Homo sapiens: one gene and its partners. The protein of the gene in region 3 interacts with the protein of the main gene of each other region in a biochemical or structural test. Each region holds a gene or a part of one and is shown on either strand. Other genes may lie near its edges.

Region 1 (7,022 bases), on a different chromosome or scaffold from region 3:
GAGCAAAACTCCATTTCAAAAAAAAGAAAAAGTCCTCACTATTCATATATAACTTTTGAGTATCTGGAAAAAGCTTCCAGCTCTCCTGCCAACAGGAATTAATTTTTTTTTTTTTTTTTTTTTGAGATGGAGTTTTGCTCTTGTTGCCCAGGCTGGAGTGCAATGGTGTGATCTCGGGTCACCAGAACCTCTGCCTCCCGGGTTCAAGTGATTCTCCTGCCTCAGCTTCCCAAGTAGCTGGCATTACAGGCATGCGCCACCACGCCCAGCTAATTTTGTATTTTTAATAGAGGCGGGGTTTCTCTATGTTGGTCAGGCTGGTCTGGAACTCCCGACCTCAGGAGATCCGCCTCCCAAAGCGCTGGGATTACGGGCGTGAGCCACCGTCCCCTGCCAGGAATGCTTTTTTACATACAATTTCAGGAACCTTATAAATTCCCTGAAGCCTATCACTCAGGATGCCCAAGGAATGCCTCAGGCTCAGGTGGAAAAATAACAAACCAAAAACCTAATGGAAAGACGCTGAGACCAAGTCCAATGAATGCAAATGCCTGACTCTCTTGCCTATGCCCATGACAAGAGCCCCAAGCACTGCCTCACACACCAGCACACCCCCAGCAGGGGCCACCAGTAATGGCAGTAATCATGCCAGACACTGAACAGGTCGTGGGAATGGGAATGGTCTGGGGCCGTGGGTACATGGCCAGACTGGGACACGTCCTCAAGGCTGTGCTAGGAGCCAACTGGCGCCTGTCCACCAGGCTGCCTGGGTGAGGCCAGTGCCTGCCCACTCTCCATTGACAGCACCAGCTCCAGCTGGGGAGGAGGCTGCGCTGGGGTCTGGTCCCCACTGCCCTTCAGAGCTTCTACAGCGCCAGATTAGAACTGAAGCAGGCTGCAGCCACAGGGAGATGTGAGCTTCCTGCCCCTTGCCATGCCCTGAGCTCTGCTGAATGAACAGGAGGGCCAGGGCCTGGCTTGTCTACTCAAGATTTCCCTCTCAGGTGTAGGTGAGTTACCCACAGCCCAGGCTCAGGGCACTTCAAACCCACTGTCCAAGGGAAGGACCCCACCATCAGGCTGAGCCTTCCTGTGCCTGTCCATGACCTCGGCCCTCTGGAAGTCCAATCCCAGAGCAAGAAATGGAGCAGATTCTTTCTCTGGTCACAGTGGCTCCCACTCCCCCTGGGGCTCATGAAAGGTCCTCTGGGCTGGGCGTGGTGGCTCACACCTGTAATCCCAGCATTTTGGGAGGCCAAGGCAGATGGATCCCTTGAGCCCAGGAGCGCAAGACCAGCTTGACAAATATGGCGGAGCCCTGTCTCTACAAAAATACAAAAATTAGCCGAGTGTGGTGGCACGTGCCTGTAGTCCCAGCTACTTGGAAGGCTGGGGAGGGAGGATCACTTGAGCCCAGGAGGTTGAGGCTGCAGTAAGCAGAGATCACGCCACTGCACTCCAGCCTGGGTGACAAAGCGAGACCCTGTCTCAAAAAACAAAACAAAAAATACTCACAAAAGGTTGTCTGAAGGCCTAGGGAGCCCTTGGCTTGGATGGAGTGGGAGTGTAAGACTAGAACAGACAAATCACAGTTGTTGTCATAAAGAGTTAAGAGTATATATTCTAAAACTACAGGGATCTAGGTTCAAATTCCAACTTATTCACTTACTAGCTCTGTGACGTTGGCCATGTTACTTAATCTCTCTAATCCTATTTTCTCATCTACAAAGTGGGGATAAATAATAGTCTTTTCCTCATAAGGTCAGAGGAAGATTACCTGAAAGAATGCCTAAATGCCCAGCTAATGTCAGTGACACTTCCCATTATCTTGTCACAGGGTCTGTTATCACTGTAGCAAAGTGGGTGGTATCATTGCCTGCCCAGTCCCGAGGGCTTTGGGCTTGCAGAAAGAAGAGGAGGCAGTTCCCTTCTTCCCAGGATCTCAGTTCTTTATCTTAGATTCCCAAGAGAGCTCAGCCTAGGAAGTTTTCTTAGACTAGCTGGGGTCTCCAGGACAAAGGTTGTATTCACTAGGGTAGAACAAATAAAATAAAATAAATACAAATTAAAAAAAGAAAAGGAATGACGGGTGGGAAGATGGCAGGGAAACCTCCCACACTGTTACTCAGCACTGTGCCTTCTGCTCTTGGGGTTCCTGGTTCTCCTTACAAACTGGAGAAAAGAGACTGATAGACAAAGGCTAAAGCAAGAAATCTGGGATGGGAAAGGGGGAAAGAAAGAAAACAGGGAGGTGGTAGATGAACAGTGAGTATGAGGTGGAGTGCAGCCTTCCAACTACAAGGATGTTTCTATCAAAAAACAAAGGTCCAGTTGAGGCAACTGTGGTGGCAGCCATCAGCCAAAACTCCAGATTCCCCTTTCCTTCCAGAGCCCCCTTCCCAGGATACTCACACGTCCTCCATACACTCCGGAGGCTGTTTCAGGCGGTTCCCGCCAATGAGGTAGTTGTAAATCTCAGCGTTTTCGATGCCAGCATATGGCGTCTGCCCACGTGTCATGATCTCCCACATGGTCACCCCGAACGCCCACTGGGACAGAATCGAGGTTGGGGGAGAAGCTGTCACTAGGTGTCCTGAGCCAGGCAGAGAGCCATGGCTCTGAGACAAGCACAACCTGGGGCTCAGGGCCTCATCAGGGGGCAACCAAACCCCAGAGAGCAGACTTGGCTAGGCCCTTAAGGATCCTAAAGGTCTGCTCTCACACTCGTCCCCACCAAGCTTCACGGGCCACCCTGCTCACCACGTCACTCTGCACAGTATACAGGTTGTCGGCCAGGCTCTCCAGGGCCAGCCACTTGACAGGCAGTTTGGAGGCACAGCCTTGACGATAGTAGTCCCCACTGTAGATCTTCCGGGAGAGTCCGAAGTCAGCCACACACACTGTCATGTCCTCTGCCAGCCTACAAGGGGCATTGAGGGAGAGAGTCAGCCTTCTGCCATGCTCACAGGCCCACAAGAGCCAGGACATCTTTGCATCTTTGCTCCCAAGCTACCCCCATGCATAGCAGATACTGTCCCAGGCAGGAGCCGACCATCAGCTAGCTCCTCTTGGCACCTGCTGCTGTCTCCCACCCTCGAGTCCTCCAGAATTCGTACATGCAATTCCGAGCAGCCAGGTCTCGGTGGATGAAGTTCCGAGAGCTCAGGTACTCCATGCCGCAGGCAATGTCCACCATGAACCGGATCAGGGTCTGGAGGGGTAGGTTCTAGTGGACAGACAGGCCAAGCTCAGGCTTAACCTGCCCACCCAGCTGGGGCAGGATGGATGGGGGTCCCTGGCCAGAAAGCCTGAAGGCTGTCCCCAGAATCACTGGAAGGAAGGAAGGGGATGGAGGGCCTTCCCAAGGCAAGGAAGCTTCGGCTAGCCTAAGAGGGAGCCTGGAAGACGAGACTCCCCCACCCTGGGGCTCCACAAGTCCCTCCCTCTAGAAAGGGCCCTTGCCCAGCCTATATTTCTCAGCAGGGTTTTGTGAGAGAAAAGAAAGCCTGCTAGATTAAAAGGATTCAAACTCAGACCCCTCCTACTCCCACCCAGCTCCATCAGCCCTACCCAGCAAGCCCCTCTCTGCCAGGGTCTCTATGCCTTTCCAGGCCCTGTGTTCCCACCCGTTTCCTCCTGGCCACCCCCACACCAGGTACTCACAAAGGGGTTCTCCCCAATCCGGGAGGCGAGCAGGAAGGCATGCAGGTCCCCATGCTTCATGAAGGGCAAGATGACCATGGGGATGGGGAGACGGCCTTTAGCCCTGCTCCGGAGGCTTACCCCTGGGACAAGGGAGAGTCAGGAGCTGAGCATAGAAGGGTCAAGGGGCAGTTCAGGTGTCTGCATAAGTCCCCACCTGCTGGGTCCCATCTCTAGCTCTGGCTCTGCTATTTATTTTTTATTTTTTCACAGGCTCCACACTGGTCTGGGGACTACCCAGGAGGGACTCTGGCTGCTCCCATATCCCTGGAGCATCTTCTGTCCCCTTCCTTTCCTTCTCTGTCCACACAAGCAGTCTTTGTTTTTTCTGAAACAGTATCTTGCTCTGTCATCTAGGCTGGAGTGCAGTGGCGCAATCACAGCTCACTGCAGCCTCAATGTTCTGGGCTCAAATGATCCTCCCACCTCAGCCTCCCGGGTAGCTGGACAAAGGTGCACACCACCACACCTAGCTAATTTTTGTATACGTGTGTGTGTGTGTATGTTTTTTGTTTTGTTTTTTTTTTTTAAATAGAGGTGGGCTGTTGCTATACTGCCCAGGCTAGTCTCAAACCCCTGGCCTCAAGCAATTCTCCCACCTCAGCCTCCCAAAGTGCTGAGGTTATAGGCATGAGCCACCACATCCAGCCACACAGTCTTCATGTGCAGACCTTTGGCACTCCTCACCTCAGATTTCTGCCAGGACCCTCCTTGCTATTTTGCCATCTATTTATTTACCAGATGAGTCCAAAAGTCTCTCCTATAGGCTGCCATCTCATATTGGTAGAGCATATTTTTAGCCCTATTCTCTATCTGCCTCCCCCAAAAATGGGCTCACCAACAAGTTTGGCCACGTGTGGATGGTCAAACTCCTTCATGCAAGCTGCTTCCCTGAGGAACTCTTCAATGTCGCTTGAGGCAATGATGTCAGCTAGGAGAAGGGGATGGGGAAGGAGGAAATAAAACAAGATGTGCCCCTAGTTTTGACCCAGGCCTCCTAGGTCTTGTCCTTCAGATGTCCTAGGCTTCCCAGGGAGCCCAGGAAACAGCCCAGCCATGAGCAGGAGAAACCCCCAAGGAGTGGTGATACTTAGCAACTTCTCCACTTGCTAATGCCTTCCCTTCCCTTTGGTTTGGGCAGCCCAGCAGGTCAACCAACCACAGCTGTAATCACCCAAGAGGGGACTCAGAGGACAGTCACTGCCGATGGCAGAGAGCAATGGCTGGGCATGAATATGTATGTTTGGGTTTATGCTTGTGAATTATTCGTGTGGTAAAGAGCATCCCAGTTAGTGCTGCCCAGCTCTTCTTGGAAAATCTAGGGGCAAAGCAGAGCCTGCTTCAGGGTCAGTCGCCCCTCTTACCCTTCCAAGTGATGCCCTCAGGCTACAGCTATCCCCCACTCACCTTTCAGCATCTTCACAGCCACTTTCACAAAGGAGCCATCCTCTTGCTTCAGCTGGGCCTCCCGCACTGAACCAAACTCTCCTAGGAACCAATCCAAGTAAGGGAGAGTCTCCTTGGCTCTCTGCTCCCTGCCAACCTTCCTCCCAAGTGACCCTCCATGGGAACACAGTCAGCAGACTCTGGGGCCAGTGGAGAAGGCACCCTTGCCAGTAGCCAAAGCAAGAGCATGCTGGGAGCAGCTCCTCAGCCCTCCCTGTCTCCAGCCACCATTCCCCACAAACATCCCACACTCAGGAGTCTACAAGCATATCTTGTTTACGGCAACCGACCCAAACCCACAGCCTCAAAGTGACAGGGGCAACCAAACACTTCCAGCTACAGCAAACCAGCCATGCCCATCCCCACACAGCCTCACATACCTTTGCCCAACATCCGGCCCAGGGTGAACTGCTGCTCTGGGATGAGCACATCCTCCAGTTTTTCCTTTAGTTCATCGCTGATGCCCAAGCTGTCCACTGTGGGGAAAGGGTTTGTGGGAAAGAGGGATCTCTGATTCCTGAGCCAAAACCCAGCCTCTTATACCCCAGACTCTGCCCTCAGAGCATAGAGATGAGCTTAGGTCTCCCACGGCTGGGGTGGTGAACTCCACACAGGCAGATTTGTGTGCCTGGGGCTCACTGATGTTCAGACATATCAGTCAAATTAATAATTTGGTAAAAGAATGCAGATGGGGCACAAGACAGCCCATTTGTCCTTCCCACGATCACCCACCACTCACATGTGGCCTCGATGCGCTCGGGCCTTTCTCGATTGAAGGACCGGGCTGCCCGGAAGTGAACGGCTGGCTCTCCCCGGGCCATGACACTGTCAAAGGCTTGCCTAAAGGAAAACCCAGGATTTGGGGTCAGCTCCAAGGTCTTTCATCATTACCTGCCTCTCCCTCCACATCCCCATCCCCTTACCCAAACCGCGTCTCTTTCCGTCTCTTTCGAAGCAGGATGAGGGCCAGGGCAGCAGCCGTCACCAGGGCCGTTAGCACACCAAGGACCACAGGTACCCAGGATGTGCGGCTGTGAGGAGGGCCCTGCTGGCCTGTGGGAGGGAGGTGCAGTGGCATGAGCTAGGATGACACCATGAGGTCCCTTCAGAACTTTCCCAGGATGGCCATCCAGCTGGTTCAAGGGGCTCCTCTAGGTCAATAAGGGTCCTGAGGGAAAGGGGCTCCAGAGGAATGCCTAAGAGTCCTTCCTACCTGGTCAGAGACAGGCCCTGGCTGTTGTGACCTAGAGGGTGACCATGGATTTCTATGCCAGTTCTGGGGCAGAGAGAGGAGAATGAGATATAGTTTGTTTGAGACACAGTCTTGTTCTGTTGCCCAGGCCAGAGTGCAGGGGCACAGTTGCAGCTCACTGCAGCCTCAACCTCCTGGGCTCAAGCAATCCTTCCACTTCAGCCTCCCAAGTAGCTGGGACTACAGGTGTGCAACATCACACCTGACTAATTTTTAAATTTTTTTGGTAAAGTCTCACTTTGCTGCCCAAGGTGGTCTCAAACTCCTAGACTCAAGCAATCCTTCCACCTCAGCCTCCCAAAGTTGTGGGATTATAGGTGTGAACCACCACTCCTGGCCTTATTTGTTTGTTTCTTTAGAGACAACAGACTCACTCTGTTGCCCAGGCTGGAGTGCAGTGGTGCAATCATAGCTCACTGCAGCCTCAAACACCTGGGCTCAAGCAATCCTCCTGCCTCAGCCTCTGGAGCAGCTGGGCTTAACAGGCATATGTCACTACACCAGGCTAATTGTTTTTTTTTTTTTTTTTTAATTTTTTTGTAGAGACAGAGTCTTGCTATGTTGCCAGAGCTGGTCTCAAACTGCCGGCCTCAAGCGATCCCTCAACCTCCCAAAATGTTGG
Region 2 (7,022 bases), on a different chromosome or scaffold from region 3:
CCTCTCTGTCTCTACCTATCTTATTTCTCTCCGTATGCCTTTTTCTGTCTCTTTCTGTCTCTTGGTGTGTGTGTCTTTCTGTCTCTCTTTGTATGTGTCTCTCTCTCTGTCTCTCTGCTTCTCTCTCCCTCCATTCACCCCGGCCTCTCTCTGAATAGAATTCTTTGTCCTGGGTTTCCTCTGAGCTGTTCCATGGCTCGAGTGCGTGTGGGCCTGGTGCCCCTTTGTCAGCCCTTGACCCAAGCAGGGCACCGGAATCAACCGTGCCCTCCTCTCCTCCGCCTCCCTCCACAACCGGCCCACCTCCTGCCCTAACAAGCCTGCTGGCCTCAGTCAAAGGGAGGATGTCCAGCCCGGTCCCCACTGGGGAGATGGAACCCAAAGAAGAGAGAGCAGGAAGAAAGTAGGAGACAGAGGCTGGGCGTGGTGGCTCACGCCTGTAATCCCAGCACTTTGGGAGGCTGAGGCGGGCGGATCACGAGGTCAGGAGATCAAGACCATCCTGGCTAACACGGTGAAACCCCATCTCTACTAAAAATACAAAAAATTAGCCGGGCGTGGTGGCGGGCGCCTGTAGTCCCAGCTACTCGGGAGGCTGAGGCAGGAGAATGGCAGGAACCCGAGAGGCGGAGCTTGCAGTGAGCCGAGATTGCGCCACTGCACTCCAGCCTGGGCGACAGGGCGAGACTCCATCTCAAAAGAAAAAAAAAAAAAAAGAAAGTGGGAGACAGAGAGAGATAGAATGACATACACTGGAAGGGACAGGCCACAGTGACCCAAGATGAACATAGACAGGACAGAGAGGCCGGGCATGGTGGCTCACGCCTGTAATCCCAGCACTTTGGGAGGCTGAGGCAGGTGGATCACTTGAGGCTGGGAGTTCGAGACCAGCCTGGCCAACATGACAAAACTCCATCTTTACCAAAAATACAAAAATTAGCCAGGCGTGGTGACGGGCATCTGTAGTCCCAGCTACTTGGGAGGCTGAGGCAGGAGAATCGCTTGAACCCGGGAGATGGAGGTTGCAGTGAGCCGAGATCACACCACTGCACTCCAGCCTGGGTGACAGAGCAAGACTCTGTCTCAAAACGAAAAACAAAACAAAATGAAAGACAGGACAGGGAAGTTGGAGTGACAGAAACCCTCTCCTTCTTGGGGACCATTCCCTTCTGCACCATGCAGACGAGGAAGGACCGAGCTCAGGGTTATGCAGTGGTCAGGGGCATCACTGGGGGACCCTGGATTCAGGGGGTTCTCCCTACTGAAGGAGGAAAGACAGAGGAGCAGATGGCAGAGGCTCTGTAAAGGAAGGAGGCTGCAGCCTGGAGGGCATCAGCTTCCCGCACTCCCAACCTGCTGCCTCTCTCTGCTGGAATGAGGAGGGGCCTTCTGACTGGGGGTCTCCAGGGTGGAGGGAGGAGCTCACATTCTCAGCATTCCTGGGACCCTGAGTTGCAAGGAAGACCTGGTGAGCATGCTGACCCCAGAGGAGTGACTCAGGCCCATGGCTCGAGTGGCTGAGTAGGGACCAGGGTTGGGGATCGGGCATGAGTCAGCCTGGCAGGTCCCATGAGAAGGGGAGGGGAGGGAGAGAAATGGGGGCTGCACAGGTGTGAGGATCTGTGCATGTCTGTGTGGTGGTGGTGGGGTGTCTGGATATCTGTGTGTTCTGGATCTGAGTGTTAGTGTATCCGTCAGCACAACCTCTGTGTGAGGGTGTGCCTTGGCGAGGGTGGACTTCTGTGGATGTCCCATGTGTGGTGTGTGTGTGTGTGTGTGTGACTAAATATATTTCCTTCAGCTTGGATTCTGTCCCAATATGTGTTTGGATCTTTATAGCATGTCTCTCTCTCTACGTTTCTTAGGGGTTGCCCGTGTGTGGGTGTCTGTGTGTGTGCGCATGATGGAGTGTACCAGTGTCAGCCTGTGTCTGTCCCTCTTTTTTGTGTTTGTGTGTTCACAGCTGGGACTCACTGTATGAAAGTAAAGTGTGCCTGGAGGGTAGTGGGTTTGGGGCTATGGTGCACACCTCTCTGTATGGAGGTGGTAGTGTCAGCCCACAGGTGTGCAGCTATGGGTGTGAGAGTGTCCTAGTGAGAGCTTGTGTTCCCTTGCAGAATCAGAACGTGTCCATGGATAACTTGTGTTTCTTACCACCTTTTTTCCCCCTTATTTTTTTTCAAGATAAGCTCCCGCTGTGTAACCCAGGCTGGAGTGCAGTACTGTGATCATGGCTCACTGTAGCCTCCACCTCCTGGGCTCAAGCAATCCTCCTACCTCAGCACCCTCCCACCCCTCAAGCAGCTGGGACTATAGGCATGTGCCACCATACCCAGATAGTTTTTGAATTTTTTGGTAGAGACAGAGTCTCGCCATGTTGCCCAGGCTGCTCTTGAACTCCTGGCCTCAAGTGATCCTCCCGCCTCGGCCTCCCAAAGTGTTGGGATTTACAGGCGTGAGCCACTGCTCTCAACCCTCAGCCTCTTACCAGCTTTCTGTGTGTGTCCATAGATGTCTCTGTGGCGTGTGTGTATATGTCACAGGGTAAGCATGTTGGTGTATGACTGTAGTCACAGACCTGTGTGTGTGTGTGTGTGTGTAACAGCACCCTCTGCTTCTCTCTGGTCTCCCTGTGTGTGCACTGGCCCCTGCTGCCTCTGAGTACATGACCTAAGGATGCTTACCAGTCAGCGTATAGATGTGTCTCTGTGTCAATCTATGTGTCCATGGCAGTGTCTCCATCCTTGTGTGTCTGCATCAGGCCTGCGCATCTACGAAACTGTGTTTTTTTGTTTTTTGGGGTTTTTGTTTTGAGACGGAGTCTCACTCTGTCACCCAAGCTGGAGTGCAGTGGCACGATCTTGGCTTACTGTAACTTCCGCCTCCGGGGTTCAAGGGATTCTCCTGCCTCAGCCTCCTGAGGAGCTGCGATTACAGGCACGCCTGGCTTATTTTTGTATTTTTAGTAAAGACAGGGTTTCATGACAGGTTTGTCATGTTGGCCAGGCTGGTCTCAAACTCCTGACCTCAAGTGATCCACCGGCCTCGGCCTCCCAAAGTACTGGGATTACAGGCGTGAGCCACCGCACCCAGCGCAAATGTGTTTTTGTATCAGTCTGTGTCTGGGTGAACATGAAACCTGGGCGCATCCAGCTCCATCTTATGGCGTAGATGGAGGCTTGGCTGTGAGGTGTACGCGTCGGTGTGTCTGTGTCTGAGCAGGTCAAAATGACCCTTCATTGTGTCCTGGTGTGTATCTATCTGTCCACCTCAACTCCATGTACGCTGTTACGTGGTGTGTGTCTCTGAATATACAGGGACATTTAAGTTTCTGTGTGTGTTGGCATCAGCCTAGATGTACATTGCGTCGCTAGGTGTTTGTAATCAATGTGTACATGTGTGACTGTGTGTTTATGTGTTTGTCCCACGTTGGCTTGTATGCATACATGTCTCTTTATGAATGTACATCAGTGTCAGCCCGCGTGTATATGTGTGAGTCACGGTGTTTTTGTGTCACTGTGTTTGTGACATCAGCCCTTGCATATCTGTGTGCCGTTAACTTACCAAGCGCTGCGTCTTCTGTGCTAATAACAGCCCCTGTGTGTTTAAGTGTGATTCATTGTGAGTGTGTGTGTGGGGGGGTTTGCTGTGTGAAGGAATTTCGTCCGTTTGTGTGCGTCTGTCCCTCTATCTGACTCAGGGCGTGCCCCTCCTCCTTCCATCCCTCTCATTCTCTGGAAAAGCTGGGGCGGAGAGCAGGGGTTGTGGGGGGATGGTCAGGACATCTGGAAAGCACATCTGGAATCGGCCTGCTCCTGTCGTCTTGCGGTAAAGCAAGAACCTTCTGGAGGGGAAGGGGTCCCAGTTCCTCCTGTCCCCTTCACTCAAGGTGCGGCCGTTGGGGCCTGGGAAGGGGGATCCCGGCTCTGGCTCCGCGCCCCCGAAGCCGGCCGGAAGCGCTGGGGTGGGGAGGTGCCCCCGGTGACTCACGCGGGGGCAGGAATGCTGCGGTCGGAACGGGACCCGGCTCCAGAACCCACCTCCAGCCCCAGGGCTTCTCCGGCCGGCGGCGCCAGCTCCCGCGCGCTGACCCTGGCGGGGCCCCACGTGCCAGGTGGCTGGACCCGACCCAGGCTCCCCGCCCCCACTCGGGCCGCCCGCCCGGGACTGTACTGTTTCTCCTCCGGGCGGCGCGGGGGCTGCGGGCGCGGGGCCTTCAGGGCGCGGAGGCTGCGGGAGCGGGCACCTGACCTTGTCTGGGAACGGCCACCTAGGAAGCCGCGACTGAGGAGCTCCCCTACCCTCCCCTTTCCGGCCTCTGCAGACTTTGCACCATTCCACTCCCTCCGCTGACGGAGAAAAGGAAACTTTGTGTCTGCGGATGGAGAGCCTCCCTTGCCAACGCGGTGGGAACAGAGGCGTACACGCACGGAGCAAACACGAGAGACACGTACACAGATACTCAACACATGCACGTACACACCATCCACAGATACACGCAGGGTCACAAACATACCAGCTCAGAAACACAAACACAGATGCACAAGCACACGCGTAAACAACACGCAGAACTGCAGTCGCACTTACAAGACTTGGTCCCAGGGCCGGGCACCGAGTGGCTCTGCCTGCGATCCAGCACTTTGGGAGGCCGAGGCGGGAGGATCGCTTGGGGCCAGAAGTTTGAGAGCAGCCTGGGCAACGTGGTGAGACTCTCCTCTTCTCTACAAAAAAAAATTGAAAAGTTAGCCAAGTGTGGTGGCCGCCTGTAGTCCCAGCTGCTTGGGAGGATGAGACAGGAGGATCGCTTGAGCCCTGGAGGTCAAGGCAGCAGTGAGCCGTGATTGTGCCACTGTACTGCAGCCTGGGAGATAGAGCAAGAACCTGTCTCAAAAAACAAAACGAAAAACTTGGTCCTTCTTACATCCTAGCGCAGACATTGTGTGTGTGTGCTGGGGGAGGGGGGTGTCTATGTTTCTACGTGTATCTGTGTTGGGGGATTCCCCTTATTCACCAGGATACGTTCTCTAAGAGCCCCCACAAAAGCCTGAAACAATGAATAATACTAAACCCTGTATATACTACACATAACTTTCTTTTTCCTTCACAATTTCGCAGATAGATTGTTTTCTTACTATAGATCTTAGCAACCTCAGTACATATATATATGATTATCTTTTTCTAAGTGGAGAATTTTCACCTTTTCACTTAAAAGGAAGCACTTTAAGGCTTCTCTTTGGCCTATCCGAATTGCAGCCATCACTATTTTGCACCCTGGGGCCTTTTTTTTTTTTTTTTAGACAGAGTCTCTCTCTGTCGCCCAGGCTGGAGTGCAGTGTGGCGACCTTGGCTCACTGCAACCTCCGCAGCCCGGGTTCTAGCAGTTATCGTGCCTCAGCCTCCCGAGTAGCTGGGATTACAGGCACGCGCCACCATGCCCGGCTGATTTTTTTGTATTTTTAGTAGAGACGGGGGTTTCACTGTGTTGCCCAGGCTTGTCTTAAACTCCTAATCTCAAGTGATCCACCCGCCTCGGCCTCCCAAAGTGCTGGGATTACAGATGTGAGCCATAGCACCCGGCCAGGCGATTATTTAGATAAATAAGAGTTTCTTGAACTCTGCACTTGAGCACTGCAGTACCAGGACAGTTGATCTGATAGCTAAGTGACTTACAGACAGGTATCAGATACAGCACTGAGATGCTGGACAAAGGGGGGATTCACGTTCTAGGCCAACCAGAGTGGGATGGCATGAGGTTTCATCACAGTACTCAGAACGGCATGCAATTTAAAACTTAGGAGTTATATCTGGAATTTTCCATTGAAATATTTTTAGACCAAGTGTAACTGAAACCTCAAAAAGTGAAACCTCGGATAAAGGGGGACTGATGTACGTTGTATAGCGGTTTGTGTTGGGTATCTCTGTGTGCTTGCAGGTCTGTGTCTCTCGTGTTTGTCTCTGTAATTGTACGTGCTTCTGTGTGTGCACGCTGGTCATACCAACACCAACACCACCACGTTAGGGAGGGAAGGCAATCCACCTTCACTCGAAAACAGTTACTCAAGGCCGGGCACGGTGGCTCACACCTGTGATCCCAGCACTTTGGGAGGCTGAGATGGGCAGATCACTTGAGGTCAGGAGTTCGAGACCAGCCTGGCCAACATGGTGAAACCCTATCTCTACTAAAAATTACAAAAATTAGCCGGGCATGGTGGCGCGCTCCTGTAATCCCAGCTACTCAGAAGGCTGAGGCAGGAGAATGGCTTGAACCCAGGAGGCAGAGGTTGCAGTGAGCCAAGATCATGCCACTGCACTTTAGCCTGGGCAACAGAGCAAGACTCTCAAAAAACAAAAGAAAAAAACAGTCAAGACACAATACGTGAACTCCCCTATGGAATTACACATGCTCATATTTCTACACCTATGCCCAGGAATGCTCATAAGTACATAGCTGAACACAATTTCACTCACTCATTCAACAAGCATTTATGGCACACCTATTGTGTGCCAGGCCATCCTGACACAGCAGGGGACGAAACAGACACAACCCCTGCCCTCCTAGAGCTGACATTCTAGTGGGAGAAACTGACAATGGGCAAGGTACTTGGGTAACAGGTAAAGTATGTTGGGTGATGAGAAGAACCAAAGAGGAAAAGTAAAGCGGGAAGGGGATAGATTTGGAGAGGAAGCTCCAATTAGCTCCAATTTTATTGTATTTTTTCTTTCTTTCTTTGTCTTTTCTTTTCTTTCTTTTTTTTTTGAGACAGAGTTTCACTCTTGTTGCCCAGGCTGGAGTGCAATGGCGTGATCTCAGCTCACTGCAGCCTCTGCCTCCCGGGTTCAAGCTATTCTCCTGCCTCAGCCTCCTGAGTAGCTGGGATTAAAGGGGCCTGCCACTATGCCCAGCTAATTTTTTGTATTTTTAGTAGAGACGAGGTTTCACTATGTTGGCCAGGCTGGTCTCGAACTTCGGACCTCAGGTGATCCACCCACCTCGGCCTCCTAAGGCTGGGATTACGGGCATG
Region 3 (7,890 bases):
TCAAGACAGTGTGGTATTAACTTTAAAAAGAGACAAACAAATAAATGGGACAGAACAGAGTCTACAAATAGATTTGCACATATATTATCAATTGGTTATTGACAAAGGTGCAAAGGCAAGTCAGTGGAGAAAGAATAGTCTTTTTAACAGTGCTGGGATGATTGCATTTCCCTAGGCACATACGTACAGATACACACTTTGTTTCATACTTCAGCATTTATAAAAACTCATTCAAAATGGATCACCATCTTAAATGTAAAACTGAAATCTACAGAACTTCTGTAATAAAATCTTTGTGACCTTGAGTTAGGCAAATGTGACACCAAAAGCAGAATCCATTAAAGAAAATAAGCTGCACTTCAAAATTAAGAATTCTGATCTTTGAAAGACACTTTAATTTCTTTTTATCTTGGAGACAGAGTCTTGCTCTATTGTGCAGACCAGGCTTAAACTCCTGGGCTCAAGAAATCCTCCTGCCTCAGCCTCTCAAGTAGCTGAAGCTACAGGCACCCACTACCATGCCTGGCTAAAGACACATTTAATAGAATGAAAAGACAAGCCGCAGACTGGAAATAAATATTTGCAAACCACACATCTGATAATGGACTTGCTTCTAGAATAGTTATAGAACTCTTAAAACTCAACAAACAGCTCAACAATTGGAAAACCAAACATCCCAAGTGTATTAGTCAATTTTCACGCTGCCGATAAAGACATACCTGAGACTGGGCAGTTTACAAAGGAAAGAGGTTTAACTGGACTCACAGTTCCACGTGGCTGGGGAAGCCTCACAATCATGGCAGAAGGTAAGGAGGAGCAAGTCACGTCTTACACAGATGGCAGAAAGCAAAGACAGAGAGCTTGTGCAGGGGAATTCCTCTTTTTAAAACCATCAGATCTTGTAAGACTTATTCACTATCATGACAACAGCATGGGAAAGACTTGCCCCCATGATTCAATTACCTCTCACCAGGTCCTTCCCATAACATGTGGGAAGTCAAGATGAGATTTCGGTGGGGACACAGCCAAACCATATCACCAAGTAAAGGAAAAGAAAGAAAGTAAAACTGAAACAGACATTTCACCAAAGAAGATATCTGGATGGCAATAAGTACAATAAAATTTGTTCAACATCACTAGTTATTTGAAAAATGCAAATTTAAACTACAATGAAATACCATTATATACATATTAGAGTGAGTAAAATTTTTTTTTTCAGTGGAGTGTAGGGTTTCTTTTTTTATTTTTATTTTTTTATTGATCATTCTTGGGTGTTTCTCGCAGAGGGGGATTTGGCAGGGTCACAGGACAATAGTGGAGGGAAGGTCAGCAGATAAACAAGTGAACAAAGGTCTCTGGTTTTCCTAGGCAGAGGACCCTGCGGCCTTCCGCAGTGTTTGTGTCCCTGGATACTTGAGATTAGGGAGTGGTGATGACTCTTAACAAGCATGCTGCCTTCAAGCATCTGTTTAACAAAGCACATCTTGCACCGCCCTTAATCCATTTAACCCTGAGTGGACACAGCACATGTTTCAGAGAGCACAGGGTTGGGGGTAAGGTCACAGATCAACAGGATCCCAAGGCAGAAGAATTTTTCTTAGTACAGAACAAAATGAAAAGTCTCCCATGTCTACCTCTTTCTACACAGACACGGCAACCATCCGATTTCTCAATCTTTTCCCCACCTTTCCCCCCTTTCTATTCCCCAAAACCGCCATTGTCATCATGGCCCGTTCTCAATGAGCTGTTGGGTACACCTCCCAGACGGGGTGGTGGTCGGGCAGAGGGCCTCCTCACTTCCCAGTAGGGGCGGCCGGGCAGAGGTGCCCCTCACCTCCCGGACGGGGCGGCTGGCCGGGCGGGGGGCTGACCCCCCCACCTCCCTCCCGGACGGGGCGGCTAAAAATTTTTAAAGTGACCACAGAAAGTATGGGTGGGGATGTGGAGCAACTGGGACCCTCATGCATTGATGGTGAAAATGAAAAACAGTATAACCACTTTGAAAAACAGTTTAAAAAGTTAAACAAATACCTACTATGGGATCCAGACACTCTGCTCCTAGATATTTCCCCAAGAGAAATGGAAGCACGTGTGCACACAATGTCCACACGATGGACACACACATGAATGCCTACAGCAGCTTTATTTGTGATAGTAAAAATTTAGAAGCAAGTATAATGTCCCTCAACAGGTGAATGATAAACAAATTGTGTTATATCCATACAGTGGAATACTACTGAGCAATAAAAAGGAATACACCTGCAACAAGATAGATGATTCTGAAAATAAATATGTTAAGTGAAAAAAACAGACAAAAAAGTGTACATACAGTATAATTCTTTTTATATAAAAGTCTAGAAAATACAAACAAATCTATAGTGATAGAAAGTTGGTCAGCGGTTTTTGCATAGAAACTGGGATGTGGGGTAGGGTGGGGACATTTAGGAGGGAGGAATTACCAAAGGGCATGAGAACACTTTTTTGGGTGATGGATATGTTCCCTAACTTGATTGTGATGATGGCTTCACAGGTGTACACAGCTTTCCACCTCATGGCCACAGACCGGTTAACCATCCATATAAAACATCCATTGCCCTGGGTCCAACCTCCTGCCCCCTGTGGAGGTGAACTGTCTACTTCACCATTGATATTTCAGGTTGTATGATATAGTGCCTGACAACTCTCCATTTTTGGAACACATCCAAATTGTTTCTTATTCATTTTCCATTTCTGCCTTCGAACGAATTTCCTGCACTGGTAACTAGGTGAAGAATTTTGGAGTTATCTGGGGTAATGGAGACATCCTCCATTGCACCGCATATTTGCTTTCTGTATTCCCCAGTTATAGAAATCAAAACGAGCAGTTGTATGTGAATGCATTGTATCAAACCAAGTCTCTAGATGATAGGAGGCATTGTCATTACTAGGATAGTAACTCAGTAGAAAGAGTGAATTGAGAATATGAGGAATGAGAGTGGGGTCCAGACTAAAAGGAGGCCAGGGGTCCTGAACTGCCCCATCCAACTGAGTTCATTCTGATACCTACTGATCTGAAGCAGCAGGTCCACGCCCAGGTGCAGATTGTCCCAGATGAACAGGCAGAGGCTAGAGATGCTCATTCCTAAAGGGATCAAATAATTCTGAGAATGGCAAGAACTCCATTAACTCTCTTCTCCAAAACTACAAAAATGTGCAGAAAATACGAACAATTTTTAGGAGCTTACACTCTTTGAAGTTTATCCATGGGCTGCTGGAACCCTTAGGAAATAATAGCTAGAAGTGCCTCAGACACTGCCTGGCACACAGCAGGTGCTCAATGAATTACACTGCCTGGCACATAGTAGGTGCTCAATGAATTGTCTGATGAAGTGATTAAGGAGCCTTGTAAATACTGATTAAAACATGTATCACCCCATCCAATTTTTCAAACCAGTGCTTCTCAAGAACAAGCAGGAAAATTAATGTAATATTGTTTTGAAGTAGCCGTGGTGGTTTCGGGGCAGAAGCCCAGGGGTACTCCTTACTCCGCCTGCTCCAGTAACTAGCTGACATGGAAGTGCCTCGTCATTCTGGTTCAGACACAGGTGCAGATAGATGACTTCTCTATCCCACTTTAATTCTCCTTGAAGATCATTCCCAGGGACATTCATTTGCTTAAATTAACATGCTCGGCCAGGCGCGGTGGCTCACACCTGTAATCCCAGCACTTTGGGAGGCCCAGGCGGGCGGATCACGAGGTCAGGAGATTGAGATCATCCTGGCTAACACGGTGAAACCCCGTCTCTACTAAAAATAAAAAAAATCAGCCGGGCGTGGTGGCGGGCGCCTGTGGTCCCAGCTACTCGGGAGGCTGAGGCAGGAGAATGGCGTGAACCCGGGAGGCGGAGCTTGCAGTGAGCAGAGATCACGCCACTGCACCCCAGCCTGGGCAACATAGCGAGACTCCGTCTGAAAACAAACAAACAACAACAACAAAAATTCATGCTCATAATCCCACTTTCAAACCAGTGACCTCAAAGATTTCTAGCAGCAATCCTATTCCATTCTTCCAATTACAGAAAGCAAAGAGAAACTGGATCTGGGGATCTAAGCGTTGAGCCTGCTGAGCAGAACGGCCATTCATTTGGGGTGAGGTGCTGACTCACTGCCCCTCTACATTGCATTTTGGGGTGTGGGGATTTCCAGAGCAGGATTCTCCAGAGAGGAGTATCCAAGCTCCCTCCTCCCGCAGCAGGGGGATGCTGGGCTAACTGCCTGGTTCGGTCCCCCGTGAGTGGTCTGCTGTGTTTTGGTTCTGTTTGTTTGTGTGTGTTTTGCCTATGACTTTGCGAAATATTCCAAGACAAGAGCCAGAAAGTCTTGGTCTCTGAAGACAAGCACAATGTTGCTTTCAGCTTAAATATCTACTGGGAAACCTCAAGATTTTTAATGTCATCATTATGAAAAACAGAGATTATAAAAGGAAACCGTCGCATTTCACTCGCTGGCCCCCAGTGGGATTGGATCTGACCTCAGTGTATCTTTTCTTTGGTAGGTTTTAAGTCTTGACAAAATGTGCCTAAGAATGAAGACTCCAAAAAGGATGCAGTAGATTCGGGGGGAGTGGGGGTTGGAAAGAGGCTTAAATCTTCACATGACACCTGGAATATGGTCAAAATGTACCTGCTCAAGTTGAACCAGGTATTGCGTCCTCCTTTTACCCCATCGCTAGTGAAGACAACCACCGCCTGGGGAGACGCTCCTTTTCCGAAACACTCGAGTCCCGCCGCGTCCCGGACGCTCCGCTTTCCCCGCGCCCGGATCCTCCCGGGAACCCGCGCCCCGCCCGCGCGCTGGTCCCGCCCCCGCCGCCTCCCCGCGCGCAGCCGCCCGAACACGCCCAGACCGAGCGCTTGAGGTGCCGCAGCCGCCGCCGCCGCCGCCGCCGCGATGTGACCTTCAGGGCCGCCAGGACGGGATGACCGGAGCCTCCGCCCCGCGGCGCCCGCGGCTCGCCTCGGCCTCCCGGGCGCTCTGACCGCGCGTCCCCGGCCCGCCATGGCCCCTTCGCTCTCGCCCGGGCCCGCCGCCCTGCGCCGCGCGCCGCAGCTGCTGCTGCTGCTGCTGGCCGCGGAGTGCGCGCTTGGTGAGTCCCGCGGGCCCGAGACCCCGTCCCCGGGCGGCGGGAGGAGGCTCCGGGCGCGGCTTGACGCGTCCCCCTCTCTCCCTCCGGGCAGCCGCGCTGTTGCCGGCGCGCGAGGCCACGCAGTTCCTGCGGCCCAGGCAGCGCCGCGCCTTTCAGGTCTTCGAGGAGGCCAAGCAGGGCCACCTGGAGAGGGAGTGCGTGGAGGAGCTGTGCAGCCGCGAGGAGGCGCGGGAGGTGTTCGAGAACGACCCCGAGACGGTGAGCAGCCGGCGGGCGGGATGCGGGGGAACCCCTGGCGCCCGCGCGCCTCCAACCGCTCCCGAGAGGCAGCGCTGCTGCCGCCCCCCAGCTCCGCGCGGCGAGGCCTGGCCTCAGGGTCCCAGGAGCCCCGGCCCGCCCCGCGTCCCCCACGCCCATCCCCCGGCGACCCCGGGATCCCCGCGCAGGCCGGTGAGACGCTGCGGGGCTGTCCGGGAAACGCTCGCTGTCAGACGCCTCCCCGCGGGGAAGCCGGGAGTCCGTTTCCAAAGTGCGAGAGAAACACAATGGTTAAAACCCAAACCGCTTCCCCGCGGCCCTCCCTCTGCTGGGCTGGAGGTGAGGAACCCCCGGGCCGCGCCTCGTCCTCCTGAGAGGGGTGGAGAGCAGTCCCCTCCCGAAAGAGGAATTGAAAGGGCCGAGGGCGGGAACTGCTTGCGGCAGCAGGTCCAAAAATAAGATTCCAGGAATCGAGCGGGGCCGCATGCGGGAGGGGAGGGCGGCTCCGCGGCCCCGTTCTGCCAGGTGCTCTCCTGGAGGCAGCGGGTGCTTTCAGGAGCCCGACGGTGCTGGCCCCGGCACCTCGGTTAGGAATGTCCTTGGAGAAGGCGGGGCGCCCGGGGCCGCCTCCCGCAGGAGCCGCCGTGTGAGGACGGCCTGGCCACTCTATCCTGCGGGCTCGGGAGCGGGTGACTTTGGAAAGTCCGAGAAGGTGTGGATTCCCGTTGACGTCCCTCCCGCCCTGAAGTCAGGGTGATTTCATAGCGAAGTTTTCCGTTCTGCTGGAATGTTCCTTTTAAAGAATTCTCCTGGGGTGGAATAAATGTCACCCGGGATGAAAGAGTGGTTCTGGATGAACCATGGAGGCCTGTTTCCGCTTACATTTCTAGTGGTTGACTTGACCCCTCTTAGATCTGCCTTTCTGAAAGCTCTGAGGCTGTCAGATGGCCACTGTGCACTTGTGGACATAGCTCATCCCTGCAGAGATGACGCACCTGGGGCTGTTGCCCGGGGGCTGCCCACAGCCCCACAGGCCCGTGCCCTCCTTCAGCTCAGCCTAGCTTGGTCGCTCTCCCCGGCCTCTCTGTTTTCCTGTTTCTTTAATGATGAATCCTGGCCTGTGCTGCTGGCTGAGGCAGGTGGGCCTGTGTGCCCTGGTCGCTCGGAGTCGCCGCCCAGCTGTGGGGTTGGTCGTGTGGCTGGTGCAGTGTCCTCCAACAGCGTCCTCACCCGGAACATTCTGCGTGCACAGGGACTGTGGCATGGGGCGTGCTGGTGATGGGAGTTGAGGGCAGCAGGGTCACCCCCACCCCACAGTACCCGCTCCGCGCAGCCCTGCAAGGCCTGGCCGCAGCCCCTCCTCGCTGTCCTCCAGGACCTGCAGGGCCCATGTCAATCAGACTGGACGCTGCCTGGATGTACTGTGCTGTTCTTCCCAAGTCAGTCCCCTACCTGGTTTTCCAATTTTAATTTAATAACTTTATTTACAAAGGTGTGAAATGAAGATAAGAAAATGAAAACAGCACTCAGGACCCCATCACTTTAATACAACTGCGGTTGCGTCACATGGTTTCTGTGCTGGCATGTTCATCTCCTCACCCTCCTGCATGTGGCTGAGTGGCTTTGGTGCCCGGGAGGCATCCCTCCCATCCTCTCACAGCCTGGCCCCAGCAGCCTCTGTCGGCTTCTTTTCAGCGTCATCTCAGTTCCCAGCGTTCTGCCCTCCTTCCCAGCCCCCATGCCAAATGATAACAACCCGCTTTCCCTCTGGTTTTTGGATCTGGCCATTAGCTTGCTGTCTGTTTCTGTTTCTGTTTCCGGTTCCTGCCGGCAGGTGGATGCTGGGGACAGCCTGGTTGGGGCAGGGGCAGGGGCAGGGTCCAGAGGCTGGCTTGAGTCCCAGCCGGCTCCAGCACACCAGGCCCACCCCTCCCAGGACCCTAGTCTCCACTGCATCCTCTGCCACACTCTTGGGAGACCCCAGGCCCGAGGGGACTGTCCAAGCACAACTTCCTGCTAATGCATGAAAATCATCCATGAACTTCTCCCTGTCAAAGGCCAGGGGCTCCTTGTCTTTGAAATGTTGCTCACTTTACATTTTGTGCAGTGCGGCTGATTGAGGAAAAGGGCTGTGGCCTGAGCTCAAGAGGTGACCAGGACCTGGCCATGGTGACTGTCAGAGCATCCTTGGGTCCCTGGCCTCCCCAGGCCCAGGATCCTGATGTGTGGTCCTCCACGGGTGGTTGTAGGGAAGGTGGTCCCAGCCCCCTGCCATTTTAGGATGTGGGAAGTGCCTGGCCGCCGTTAGTTAACACGCACCTACCCAGCCCTGGCTGTTTCCCCTGGGCAGGCTCCTACGAGGGAGGGAAGGGACAGCTGGAGCCAGCTCTCCAGTGTGCTCACCTTCATGTCCACCTGCTAAACTGCTAACCTGCCCGAAGTGTGTCCCACTGCCCCTTGCTGGGGCATCTTCCTGGTTGCGCCTTCTTCCCGGAAGCACCCGCTGT
Region 4 (7,022 bases), on a different chromosome or scaffold from region 3:
ATGCAATCAAATGTAACTGACATGGTGCAAAACAACACTATAGAGTGTTACCAACATAATCATGTCAATCATGATCAAAGGATAAAGACATGCATGGGAATTGAAACACCCAATGTGGGATAATGGTTTTCTCTGGGTGGGAGTGAGGGGATGACACTGGAGAGAGGAACGACCGGGGACTTCCACTGTAGTGTTAATGTCTGACTTCTTACGTCAAGTAGTGAGTACACAGGCGAGTTTTATTACCTGTTAAATCCTTTTGTGTATCCTAAATATTTTATAATAAGATGTGAGTATAAAGAGTAGCTGAGAGGAAAAAATATAATGGTAAAAAGGGAAAGGCCTTACTATTTACTGGTTGGCCCACCTGATTAGCTGTATCTCTTTCCACCAACAGGTCCTAAAATCCTAAGGGCACTTGGCTTAATGAATCATCCAGCTCAACATTCTCACTTTGTCTAGGAATTGCCACCTCCCTTGGATAAGCATAATTAGCTTACTCCTACCCTCAATGGCCAGGTTCTGATACATACCCCTCCTGGGATGGGGTAATAGAGAGAGGCTCCCCACCACTGCCCAAGAATCAGACATCAGATATACTGCATCAGTGGAGTGTAACGAAAGAGGTGGCACAGAATAGCTTGGACATACACAAGGCAGGGCCACAGCCCCAAAGATTGAGTCCACGGGTCCTGGGAACCTGAGCTTCTACCTTGCGAAAATGCTTCCTAGGTAGTTCTGAAGCATACCTCTTCTTGAGAACCCCTGTCATGAATCATTGTCTTTATCCTTATCTTCCCAGCCAGAATATTTAAGAGCGTTGCATTCTACAGTTTATATCACAAAATATTTTTTAAATTTCCAATTATAAAATGACATAATAATATTGAATGAATAAACTTTTGAAAATGACATCATTCTCCCTGATCCTGAAGATTCTGCTGTTCCCCCTCAGGGGGGATATGCCCCACTCCATCCACCCCGGAAAAAGCTTAGTCCATCCCTCTGTCTCTCAGAAGATTTAGCAGGAAGAGGTCATATGTGTTTGGGGAGATCCAATATTCTCAGAAATATACCTCCATGTTTCCAGACTATTCTATTGCCCCAGAGTTGGAGGGGGTACTTACTGGAGGAACAGACAGCCCAGGTGGCAGGGAATGGCAACTGTCAACAGCAAAGAACCCACTAGCATCACTCTTTTTTTTGATACGGAGTTTTACTGTTATTGCCCAGGCTGGAGTGCAGTGGCACAATCTCGGCTCACTGCAACCTCCGCCTCCTGGGTTCAAGTGATTCTTCTGCCTCAGCCTCCCAAGTTGCTGGGATTACAGGCATGCGCCACCACGCCTGGCTAATTTTTTGTATTTAGTAGAGACAGGGTTTTACCATGTTGGTCAGGCTGGTCTCAAACTCCTGACCTCAGGTGATCCACCCACCCTGACCTCCCAAAGTGCTGGGATTACAGGCGTGAGCCACCGCACCTGGCTGCATCACTCATTTTTAATGAAACTCTTCACACAGCCTCCATCTCCGTTTCTGGGCTGATGTCTAAGAAAGTTCACACCGAGAGTCACGCACAGGGCTGAGGGTCAAACTCAGGCTGAGGCTCTGTGTCCCAAACGGCATGGGAGAAAGTATCCCTTCCCACCTCTCCCCTTTAGATGGAATCAGTGTTCTGCCCCAAAGGGGCCTAGAATCATCCATCTGCTTTCCCATTTGACAAGTGAGGATGTGGAGTTTTAGAAGGAGGACACACTATACCCCAGCTGTCCCTGCAGGTTCCTCTCAAAGCTAGGATGAGAACTTACATCTTTCAACTCCCCAAGTGGTTATTTTTTAAACTAAGAGTGAATCTAAAAAGCTTCTTTTTTTTATTTGCTCCAAAACTTTCAAAGAACATTGCTTTCATCACCAAATCTTCAAATCATGTGCCAGAATTGTAAAAAGGCTTAAAGGCTGGTTTCACTTCCTGTGTGGAGGCAGCCTGCCGTTAATTGGAACAAGTGAAAAACTGGCCTCCAGGCACACACAACACTTGGGAAGTCCATGAATATTTATCACCGCACTGAGAATTCCCTAAGCGGCACAGTGACAGAAAACAACTTTCAGTTAAGTTTGAGTCTCTGTTCTAATATTCTCCACTAAGACAGCCTGTTCTTACTTGTGAAAGTGATCATTTTCAAAACCATAATGAAGCCAATCTACTATTGGTAGCTCTAACCACAAGGCCCTAAGGCTTAAAATAACAAAACAATTCCTTCTCCAAAATAAACAAGGCTTTTCTTTGTGTATCTAATGAGAGGCAAGACCACAGCTAAGGCAAGTTCTAAGATGTTTACTGTCCCTGAATGCTGAGGTATCTAGATCCTCAAAGAAAAAGCAGATTACACAAAAAAGGGGACCTGTCAGAAAGCATTTGCATAAGTGCCAACCTGAGATCTAAATCCGGAGGATGGACCCCTACTGGAGTGACCTAGGGCAGAGCACTAACCCTGTGATGATTGGATCTTGTTTTCAAGGGACCAACAGAAATACATGGAGGCACAGAGTACAAGGAGAAACATACAAGTGTAAAATGTGCTGGCAAAAAAATCCAGGCATTGAGCTTCTGAAATGAAATGGGGTTTCTCTAAGCACAAATATAAATGTTCTTAGCTTTTGGTGTAATTTTATTCCAAACATAAAGCCAACATCTGTTCTCTCTTTCTCTTTCCTTCTGCCCCTTCTCCCTGCCTGCCACCTCCAAGACTCATGGAAAATCCATTTACCATTGAGTGAAAGAAGCACTGATAATTGAAGAACTAGCCAAGAAGGATGAAATAAAATGCTTTAGAATTGAGTGTAGGTTTCTGGCTGGGCACGGTGGCTCACGCCTATAATCCCAGCACTTTGGGAGGCTGAGGTGGGCCAATCACCTGAGGCCAGGAGTTCGAGACCAGCCAGGCCAACATTGTGAAACGTTGTCTCTACTAAAAAATACAAAAATTAGCTGGGTGTGGTAATGGGTGCCTGTAATCCCAGCTACTCGGGAGGCTGAGACAGGAGAACCGCTTGAACCCAGGAGGTTGAACCCTGGGTTCAATCGCTTGAACCCAGGAGGCTGCAGTAAGCTGAGATCGCGCCACTGCACTCCAGCCTGGGTGACAGAGTGAGCCTCCATGTCAAAAAAAAAAAAAAAAAAAAAAAGAACAGTGTAGGTTTCTCAATGAAATGTTTGAGACATAATCACCCTTTCTTCTTTATCACTCTGAAACACCAGGACCTGAGGAGGTGACCTGGCCATAGCAGCCCAGGGTTTCACATGCCGGCCATGTCCCTAGATCCTAGTGCCTGTCAGAGGCCCCGAGAGTGAAAATGTGGCAGCTCCCATGAAGGGATGGCTGTCCAGCTGCAGAGTCTCACAAAACTAGGGAAGATCTAGGCCCTCCCTTCCTGTGGCTAAGAATCACCCAGTTCAACAGCCATGGTTCAGACAGAGAAAAGTAAGGCCTAGGAGGGAGGAAGTGCCAGGATGGCAGGTATTCTTAGTATCCTTGTTCTCCAAAAGGGGCCTGCTGATCCTAATGGAATTCTCTGCCCCTGCCAGGCTGCATTTTTAGCACTTCGGCTGGAGGCAGGAGTGGGAGACATAGAATGAAAAGAGAGGGAACTGGTTTAACTCCGGTCACGGGTTAGCCAATGCCCAGAGTGCCAGAGGGAGAGTAATCAGGGCTCCCTCCCGGGCACCTGAGGGTTGGCTCACCCATGCCATTAAGCAGGAAGTACCAGAAGCCAGGAGTGCACCTGGCGCCCTTTGCATTTCCTACAAGACCACCTGCGGACACATACTCACGCCTGTACACGGAATCTACTCTAAGAACCAAAGCCTCATTTTCTCTATGTTGCAGCCAACTGACCTCATTGGGAAAACCTAGCTCGATGTGGTAAAAAGGAAAAGAATTTTCTGAGCTGGGTGAGGTGGTTCACTCCTGTAATCCCAGCACTTTGAGAGGCCGAGGTGGGTGGATCGCGAGGTCAGGAGTTCAAGACCAGCCTGCCCAACACGGTGAAACCCCGTCTCTACTTAAAATACAAAAATTAGCCAGGTCTGGTGGAGGGCACCTGTAATCCCAGCTACTTGGGAGGCTGAGGCAGAGAATTGCTTGAAGCCAGGAGGCGGAGGTTGCAGTGAGCCGAGATCGCGCCACATGCACTCCAGCCTGGGCGACAGAGCAAGATTCCATCTCAAAAAAAAAAAAAAGAATTTTCTGGATGTTCACACTCAAAAACCCTAAAACAAAACAAACACAAAAAATAAAAATAAAAAAATTTAAACCACACCCAGTTTGGAAAAGAGTTATGTGGGAAAAGTTGAACAGGAACTGGACTTCATTTTTATACCTTCCTGAGAGGCACATGACAAGAAGCTATTCCTGTACTATGTCAAGTTTGAACTCCATAAGGGAAGGTATGGGGGCAGGAGTAGGAGGGGAATGGCAGTCAGGGCGGGCCCTGCTTCTCTGGAGAACTGCTTGGTCCTGGGTGGGTTTTGCTCAAACTACTAGGAAACAAAAACCTAAAGAGCTGCAGCAAAGGACTTGGGCACTCTAGGGCGACACCGGAGGGCCCCTTCACCAAAGCATTCTGAACAATGGAGGGTGGACCATTCAGGATACACTTCAATAAGAAAAGAACCCTCCTCCCAACACCTTTTGTCTAGGAAAAACATTTCCCCCATACTTGAGTTCAGAAGAATGGAGGAGAACCATTGGTAATAATGGCAAATATATTTTAAGCACATATCACCTGCCATTAGCTCATTACGTCCTCCTAACAATTCTATGAAAAGAGCCTCCCACTGTACCCAAAAAGGAACAGAGGTCCTGAAAGTTAATCACCACCCCCAAAGCCCCAGAAGCCAGTCCCGGTTAACACTTTCATTCCAGTCCCCAGAGGCATAGTGTGCCTCACACAGTGTGAGACCCCTTTCAGTTTTTATAATAATTAATCTCCTGCTGAGAAACATACCAATTCAGAGCCATGTGCTTTGGGTTAAGATTAAACTAACGGCAAGGGCCAAAGTCAAGGCACCCAGGGCTACCTGCCCCTGAGCAAGGAGTTGTTAGAACTGTGTTTAACATGAAAAATTACCTTCTGACATTTTTTTTTCTAGTTGGAATAGTTAGGACAATGTAAAATATGTTTGGGGTTAATACAGCCCAAAAATCTGTCTGGTTTTAATTGACTAGCTCCTCCAGCAATGAAATCACATTGGCATCACAGCAAAATAAAAGATTGTTTTCTATTAACCAAGCCCCGAATGTGAGGGCATGGGAGCTCCAGCAATTCTGTTTCTGGAAAAGCCAGTAGGAAAAGATAAGGGTGAAGAGCACCTGGTAAGACATGCAGGGGCTTGGTTCCTTCATGCTGTGCTCTGATACTCACTGAGCACCCGTATGAGCTCCATGCTGTGTTAGCAGTGAAAAAGACAGCAGCCCTGCCACCAGGAGCTTACCTTGTGGTGGGGGGACAGTGGAGGAAAAGGAGTAAACAAAGAGGTAAGGCTGGGTGCCATAGCTCACGCCTGTAATCTCTGCACTTTGGGAGGCTGAGGTAGGCGGATCACCTGAGGTCAGGAGTTCGAGACCAGCCTGGCCAACATGGTGAAACCCTGTCTCTACTAAAAATACAAAAATTAGCCAGCTGTGGTGGCAGGTGCCTGTAATCCCAGCTACTGGGAAGGCTGAGGCAGGAGAATTGCTTGAACCTGGGAGGCGGAGGTTGCAGTGAGCAGAGAATTTGCCATTGCAAGACTCTGTCAATAAAGAAATAGAGGGAGGGAGGGAGGGAGGAAGGAAGGAAGGAAGGAAGGAACTGATCAGGTTGTGAGAAGCATTATCAGGAAATTAAATTTAAGGGATAGTGGGGTGTATGCATATGATACTTTGGCAGGGGGTGGTTATTGGGGAAGGCTTCTCAAGGAGAACCTCTGAACTGAAACCCAAAGGATGAGAAGAAGCCAGCATGCCGAGATCTTGGGAAAAAGGTTCCAGCCAGAGGGAAGAGTCACTGCAAAGGCTGCTCAGGCCCTAGAAAGAAGACACAGGTGGCTGGAGTGGTAGGAACAAGAGGGAAGTGAATGGAAATGGGTCAAAGAGGTTCGCTGTGAGTCTCTGCAAATTCTAGTAGGGAACAGGAAGCCACTGGAAGATTTTCAAATGGAAAATACAATCAGATTCGTTTCCAAAATCTCATTCTGGCTATTATATGGAAAGCGACTGTTTCACATGTGTGTTCAAGGTCCCAGCTCAGTTTTTCTACCCAGCAGCATGTTCCCAATTCACAGGCATAAAAAGATTGAACCTCTTCTTGACCAATGCTGACTAGTAACTCACTGGCCCTTCTACAATTATCTGGAAATTATTTCAAAAATTAAGATTTAAAAATATAATTATTGGCTGGGTGTGGTGGCTCATGCCTGTAATCCCAGCACTTTGGGAGGCCAAGGCAGGCAGATCACCTGAGGTTGGGAGTTCGAGACCAACCTAACCAACACGGAGAAACCCTGTCTCTACCAAAAATACAAAATTAGCCAGGCGTGGTGGTGCATGCCTGTAATCCCAGCTACTCAGGAGGCTGAGGCAGGAGAACTGCTTGAACCCGGGAGGCGGGAAGTTGCGGTGAGCCGAGATTGTGCCATTGCACTCTAGCCTGGACAGCAAGAGTGAAACTCTATCTCAAAAACAAAAAAACATAATTATTGTTAATTTTTTAAAAATTGTATTCAGCTGTGCATGGTGGCTCATGCCTATAATCCCCACACTCTGAGAGGCTAAGGTGGGAAGATCGCTTGAGCCCAGGAGTTCAAGACCAGCCTGGGCAACATAGTGAGATCCTGTCTCTACAAAAAATAAAAAATTAGCCAGGCATGGTGGTATGTGCCTGTGGTCATAGCTACTTGGGAGGCTGAGGTGGGAGGATCACTTGAGCCCGGAAGGTTGAGGTTGCAGTGAGCCGTGATGGTGCCACTGCACTCTAGCCTG

What was found.
Region 1: the proteins of GAS6 (region 3) and TYRO3 form a complex in vitro, tested with the Homo sapiens proteins (2 studies listed by BioGRID).
Region 2: the proteins of GAS6 (region 3) and AXL form a complex in vitro, tested with the Homo sapiens proteins (2 studies listed by BioGRID and IntAct, with this or other methods).
Region 4: the proteins of GAS6 (region 3) and MERTK form a complex in vitro, tested with the Homo sapiens proteins (one study listed by BioGRID).

What each region holds. Positions count from the first base shown.
Region 1 is NC_000015.10:41,569,206-41,576,227, reverse strand, and holds part of TYRO3 (tyrosine-protein kinase receptor TYRO3 isoform 1 precursor), read right to left. Parts: intron 6,202-7,022; coding exon 6,072-6,201; intron 5,989-6,071; coding exon 5,888-5,988; intron 5,625-5,887; coding exon 5,529-5,624; intron 5,191-5,528; coding exon 5,110-5,190; intron 4,634-5,109; coding exon 4,541-4,633; intron 3,786-4,540; coding exon 3,664-3,785; intron 3,227-3,663; coding exon 3,117-3,226; intron 2,921-3,116; coding exon 2,761-2,920; intron 2,550-2,760; coding exon 2,413-2,549; intron 2,031-2,412; coding exon of another isoform or gene 1,997-2,030; exon of another isoform or gene 1-1,996. UniProt on the Homo sapiens protein: Receptor tyrosine kinase that transduces signals from the extracellular matrix into the cytoplasm by binding to several ligands including TULP1 or GAS6. Regulates many physiological processes including cell survival, migration and differentiation.
Region 2 is NC_000019.10:41,222,210-41,229,231, forward strand, and holds part of AXL (tyrosine-protein kinase receptor UFO isoform 1 precursor), read left to right. Parts: intron 1-4,545; exon of another isoform or gene 4,546-4,703; intron 4,704-7,022. UniProt on the Homo sapiens protein: Receptor tyrosine kinase that transduces signals from the extracellular matrix into the cytoplasm by binding growth factor GAS6 and which is thus regulating many physiological processes including cell survival, cell proliferation, migration and differentiation.
Region 3 is NC_000013.11:113,861,068-113,868,957, reverse strand, and holds the start of GAS6 (growth arrest-specific protein 6 precursor), read left to right. Parts: upstream 1-4,881; 5' UTR 4,882-5,037; coding exon 5,038-5,125; intron 5,126-5,216; coding exon 5,217-5,383; intron 5,384-7,890. UniProt on the Homo sapiens protein: Ligand for tyrosine-protein kinase receptors AXL, TYRO3 and MER whose signaling is implicated in cell growth and survival, cell adhesion and cell migration.
Region 4 is NC_000002.12:111,901,598-111,908,619, reverse strand, and holds part of MERTK (tyrosine-protein kinase Mer precursor), read right to left. Parts: intron 1-7,022. UniProt on the Homo sapiens protein: Receptor tyrosine kinase that transduces signals from the extracellular matrix into the cytoplasm by binding to several ligands including LGALS3, TUB, TULP1 or GAS6.